Regions from separate parts of the Homo sapiens genome. Here region 2 is linked to region 1. A link means that fine-mapping ties the variant in region 1 to the plasma level of a protein whose gene starts in the linked region. Region 1 holds a variant in brackets. A gene starts in the other region. All regions are shown on their reverse strands.

Region 1 (2,901 bases):
TGTGAGGGCTGTGGGCGTGGGGTAAATGCAGGGCGGGGAGGGGAGAGGGGTCAGGGCTGAGGAGGAGAAGCAGGGGCAGGAGGCAGGGCGGGGAGGGCAGAGGGGTCAGGGCTGAGGAGGAGAAGCAGGGGCAGGAGCGGTGAGGAAGAGGGGCATTTGGTCGAGGTTGGGTCAGGTAAGGACACGGTGGTAGGCAAAGGCCAGGGGGCAGGTGGGGTGCCTGGGAGGTCCGTGGTCAGAGGATGGGTGCTGGTGGGGCCTGGAGATGGCGGTGCTGCCTCCACCCTCCTGAGCCTGGAGGCCTGACAATTGCATCCGAAAAATCCACAGCCACCATCGTGTCAGCAGCACGTTGACCATGGCTCACGACATGGGGACGGGCATTCTTGCCGCTTCCTCAGAATATTAACGACGGTCCCAGCAGAATGCTGTATGAATATTCATATGGAGCTCAATCAAGCCTGGGCTGGCGGATGGCACAGGGAGAGGCGCCGTGACAGGCTGGGCCCGGGTCCCAGTGGGCACACCTTGGCAGGGTGTGGCCGTAAGTCTCCGCCAGCTCCAGCCAGGATCTGCCTCCCTCGGGATGGGACAGGCCTGGGCCTGTTGTATGGCCACAGGCAGAAGAGGCCGATGAGTGACATGACATCACCACTTAGTGACTGCCCTCGTCCTGGGAGCCCAGATGCTGGGGCGGGGCTCCTTCCTGAAAGACCCAGAGAAGTTCATCTCAGGTTTAATGGGGGCACTGCTGCCTCAGAAGCCAGGCAGTGGGTGGTGAGGTCCCTGTCCTCACTGGGGTCTGCAGCCGAGGAGGACTGGCCACCGAGGCCCAGGCCAGGCACAGGGATGCTGGGTGGCCATGGCCAGTCCTCCCGGGAGCCCCTAGCACCTTGGGCCTGCCCCCAGCTCTCACGCCGGGAGAGGTTTTTTCCCACTCCGGTGGCCGACGCCCTGGTGAAGGGATTCGCAGAACGGGAGCACATGGATTTCCAGTTCTTCCCAGCGGGCGCACGTAGGCCGGCACCCTCTCTCTCGTCTTTGGGCAGAACTCGAGTGCTGCTAGACCCTTGGCCCCGCTCACTGCGCTGGGCCGCACTGCACCCATTTCCTCCCAGCAAGGGCGGTCCCTGGACTCCTCTGACCTGAACTGCTTCCGAGTTTGCTTCTCAGAACCAAGAGGGGCTGGCTCTGCGCCCTGCCTACCTGTCCAGGGGTGGGGGCTGCCCTTTGAAGCTATCAATCTGGGTTTTAAGTGTGGATTCATTATTGACAACACCATGACGTTATGCTGACATGAATTATTTGTATGTTTTTCAAATTGTGCTGTGATAACCCTGGCTGTCTTCCTGCTCCCATAGTGGATAAAAGCGTCCGAAAGAATGCCGCCATCTCTCTTCTCCCCACAGCCTGGAGCTGGGCCAACCGGAACTCAGCCACCACCTGTGCTCGGTGCAGCCTGGTTTGACCCCCACCCTCCTCCACCTGGCTGGGGTGCGTGCCTGGCACATGTATGTGTGCACGTATGTGCGTGTGGGGGTGTGGCATTTGTGTGCCCAAGTGTTTTCTGCTGTCGTGTCTCACGTCCTGGCTCTGCCGCCCTCCACATCCATGGCTCCTTCCCGTGCTCCCTCAGATGGTCCCCCAAAGAACGGAGGGACTCCGGCCCCTTGAGGAACAGGGAAGCCCCTGCCTGGGTAGCCACTGGCAGGTGAGTCCTGTGTTCCTGCCGAGAAAAAGTCTGCTTTCAAACGCGGATGGGCAAGCACTCCCTTTGCGGTCGCCGCGCTTGGGGTCGCCGGTTGCTGGGCTGATTGGCAGGAAGAGGTGCGGCTCCCC[G/A]GCCCCTCGTGAGGCTGTGCAGCCATCTGCCCCTCTCCAGGCCCAGCTCTTCCTGTGAGATAAGGGGGCGGGAACCCAGGGAGGCTGGGCCTACAGCGTGCAGTGAGGTGAGGTGCTGGACTAGCTGTTCTCAGGTCACCCCCAGGGAAAGCCCTAGGCCCGCATTCTGTCCCCAGGTGGGAAGTTCAGGGAGAAGGAACCAGGGCTGGGGTTGGACTCAGGGCGGGGGGCGGGGGGGCGGGGCTCACGATGTCACCTGTGGCACGGCTGCCGCAGTGGGCCAGGGAGCTCCAGATTCCCTGGGTCACCGTCTTACCAGGGCCTGGGTTGGGGCCTGGGTCGGGGCCATGGGATTGCAGAAGCAGCACTGGAGGCTGGTGCCCTGTTCCTTCCACCAAAACTGGGCAGACCCTCTCCTCAAGGGAAGGTGCCGGGGGCTGGCTGCAGGCCCTGCCTGAGGCAGATCTGATGACCTTGGGCCAGGAAGACAAGGCCATTTGTGGCCCAAACCCTTTCCTGGGGCTTATTCTCAAGGATGTATCCTGGTGGGGGCTGTCTCCAGGGGTCGGTCTGTAGAAGGATGCTAGACCCTCTCTGGGAGCTCCGAGCCTAACACGAACAAACAAAAGAACAGGTTGCTGCCCCACGGGTTCCTGGGGCTGGGTGCAGAGCAAGCCTTCACATTCACTTTCTGAATGACTGTGCCAAGGGCCAGCTGAGGCCCCCACGAGTACGTCTTCCGGGCAGGATGTCCCTCGAGAGCTGTGCTTGCCTCTCACCAACTTAGAACTAACCCCACTCCCAGGCTGGGCACGGTGGCTCACACCTGTAATCCCAGCACTTTGGGAGGCCGAGGTGGGCGGATCACTTGAGGTCCGGAGTTCGAGACCAGCCTGGCCAACATGGTGAAACCCCGAATCTACTAAAAATACAAAAATTAGCTGGGCGTGGTGGCAGGCGCCTGTAATCCCAGCTACTCGGGAGGGTGAGGCAGGAGAATCGCTTGAATCTGGGAGGTGGAGGTTGCAGTGAGCCGAGATCTCACCACTGCATTCCAGCCCG
Region 2 (2,856 bases), not on the chromosome of region 1:
GTTAAGTGGAGCGGGTGTGTGAGAGTTTGAGTGATCACACCACACACACATCCACACACACATCCACACATCTTGGAGGGGAAGGAGCCCCCGGCCCCCACCTTTGACCCCTTACCTCTCCCATCTGAACTCTCCTTCTTTTTTTATTTTTATTTTTTACAGACAGAGTCTCCCTATGTTGCCCAGGCCAGTCTCCACCTCCAGGGCTCACGCAATCCTCCCGCCTCAGCCTCCCAAAGTGCTAGGATTACAGACATGAGCAAAAGCCCCCGGCCCCCCAATCTCTCCTTCTTAACCCCTCCCTTCCACCTCGAGTTCCCTAACCTTGATTCTTGGCTGAGACCCCCTGTTTCTTGTCCCTGAAGGCTGGTGCTTGCATCTTGACTTCCTGGTGCTTGTAGATTTCCTCCACTTCCATGGTCCCCAGCCCGCAAATTTGTCCATACACGTCCCCGCCCACCGGAAGGTGTGGGCAGATGAGGAAATCTGGAGGTGGGGGGAAGAAAGAGGGGGAGCAGCCTCCTCTTTTCAGGGATCCACGACTCTCGCACCCTGGGGCACCCTCATTCCTGCCCCGATCAAGAGGCTCTTGGGAGCCAAGAGGTCTCAGGAAGGACCAAGAAGAAAAACCTCTAGACCGGGAGATGGAATTCGACACTCGGAAATGTTACAGGAAGCTGTGGTCTCTGTGTGTGTCTGTGTCTACCTGGATGGACCTCACCCTCCTACCTCCTCTCCATTTCAAAAGAGAAGCTGTGACACCTCAGTGTCCCAACTTTTCGCGTAAGAGCAACCAGGCTTGGAGACAGGACCCCTGGGTCCCCCCACACCTTCCTCCCTCCAGCCTCAGCTCCACCCCTCAGCTCCACCCCCAAGAAGTTCTTCTACTTCTACAAGTCCCCGTGGAGGAAAAGCACAGATGTGAGGCAACGGGAACTAACCACTGGAACGCCACACCCACATCTGGGACTGAGGACAGACCCACATCCTTCCCTCCCTCCCCAAATCCCCTGCTTTTATACAACCCTGGAGGAGGCTGGGTGCGGTGGCTCACGCCTGTAATCCCAGCACTCTGGGAGGCTGAGGTGGGTGGATCATCTGAGGTCAGGAGTTTGAAACCAGCCTGGCTAACATGGTGAAACCCCGTCTCTACTAAAAATACAAAAATTAGCTGGGCGTGGTGGCGAGCGCCTGTAATCCTAGCTACTCAGGAGGCTGAGGCAGGAGAATCGCTTAAACCTGGGAGGCGGAGGCTGCAGTGAGCGGAGATCACACCATTGCACTCCAGAATGGGTGACAAGAGGGAAACTCTGTCTCAAAAAAGAACCCTGGAGGAACAGTTTCCTCTGCACCTGGAAACTCCAGGTTTCTCATTCTCATCCATCCATCTGCTTATCTACCCAGATACTCTCTCTCACACATGTACACACACAGGTCTGCACACGGACACACATCACAAACTCATTTGCATACTATTTGCATTGTGACACTCAGAAAAATAGACACAAGCATGCGTTCACATGCCCGCACTCTGTCTAGAAGGTGTCTTAGTTCACTTTGTGTTTATCTGATCTTGAAAACTGGGGTTACAAAAGGCACAAAGTAGCTGGGTATGGTGGCTCGCTCTGTAGTCCCAGCTACCCAGGAGGCTGAGGTAGGAGGATCATTTGAGGCCAGGAGTTTGAGACCAGCGTGAGCAACATAGCAAGACCCTGTCTCTTTAAATGTTTTTTAATAATTTTTTTTTGAGACAGGGTTTCACTCTGTTGCCCAGGCCGGGGTGCAGCAGCGTGATCATGGCTCACTGCAGCTTTGACCTCCCTGGCTCAAGTAATCCTTCGTCCTCGGCTTCCCGAGTAGCTGAAATTACAGGTGGGCACGACTTCACCTGGCTAATTTTTCTCCTTTTTTGAGATGGAGTTTTGTGCTTGTCACCCAGGCTGGAGTGCAATGACGCTATCTCAGCTCACTGCAACCTCCGCATCCCAGGTTCAAGTCATTCTCCTGCCTCAGCCTCCCAAGTAGCTGGGATTACAGGCATGCACCACCACCCCCGGCTAATTTTGTATTTTTAGTAGAGACGGGGTTTCCCCATGTTGGTCAGGCTGGTCTCGAACTCCTGACTTCACGTGATCTACCCGCCTTGGCCTCCCAAAGTGCTGGGATTACAAGCATCAGCCACCGTGGCCCAGTCTAATTTTTCTTATTTTTTGTAGAGATGAGGGTCTCAATATGCCGTCCAGGCTGGTCTTGATCTCCTGGGTTCAACTGATCCTCCAGCCTTGGTCTCCCAAAGTGCTGGGATTACAGGCATACATTTTTATTTTTATTTTTTTCTGGCCAGGTGTGGTGGCTCACGCCTGTAATCACAGCACTTTGGGAGTCTGAGGCGGGCGGATCACCTGAGGTCAGGAGTTAGAGACACCAGCCTGACCAATATGATAAAACCCTGTCTCTACTAAAAATGCAAAAATTAACTGGGCGTGGTGGCAGGCGCCTGTAATCTCAGCCACTCGGGAGGCTGAGACAGGAGAATCACTTGAACCCGGGAGGTGGAGGTTGCAGTGAGCCGAGATCGCGCCATTGCACTCCAGCCTGGGCAACAAGAGCAAAACTCCGTCAAAAAAAAAAAAAAAAAAAGAAAAAAGAAGAAAGAAGAAAGAAGGAAGGAAGGAAGAAGAAAAGAAGAAAAAACAAGTATAAGACTGTCTTATGTGCAGAAAGTGATGATGTTTTGGTTAAAAATATGTGGTTAAATTTCAGACAACTTGAATGTTGAGAAATGAGCGTCGAGATCTGGTGAGGATAAAGTTCTGTTTCCTAAAATATTGCCAAATCCTGTGTCTCCAAGAAAGA

Which allele goes with the higher level. Alleles are on the strand shown, and positions count from the first base shown. The strength of an association depends on the size of the effect and on how common the allele is.
In carriers of allele A in region 1, the plasma level of the protein whose gene starts at base 410 in region 2 tends to be higher than with G alone (strong association).

What was found. PIP is the chance, under the fine-mapping model, that this variant and not a neighbour inherited with it causes the effect. The UK Biobank Pharma Proteomics Project read protein levels with antibody pairs (Olink). The fine-mapping took linkage between variants from a reference panel, not from the people measured, so its PIPs are less certain.
Region 2: MCEMP1 starts here. The variant in region 1 is fine-mapped to the plasma level of the MCEMP1 protein (UK Biobank, PIP above 0.99).

Annotation. Positions count from the first base shown.
Region 1 is chr9:136,106,249-136,109,149 of GRCh38, reverse strand. It overlaps LINC02846 (long intergenic non-protein coding RNA 2846), which reads left to right. Exons shown (of 2, transcript NR_189286.1): 2 at 331-1,301. Among named protein-coding and RNA genes, the nearest start is that of LINC02846, 1.7 kb to the left of the region's middle. RefSeq lists enhancers at 452-1,064, 2,338-2,387 and a silencer at 1,928-2,027. The variant G/A (reference allele first, on the strand shown) is at 1,840.
Region 2 is chr19:7,674,644-7,677,499 of GRCh38, reverse strand. MCEMP1 (mast cell expressed membrane protein 1) reads right to left here and starts at 410. Exons shown (of 7, transcript NM_174918.3): 1 at 325-410. The coding sequence starts at 379.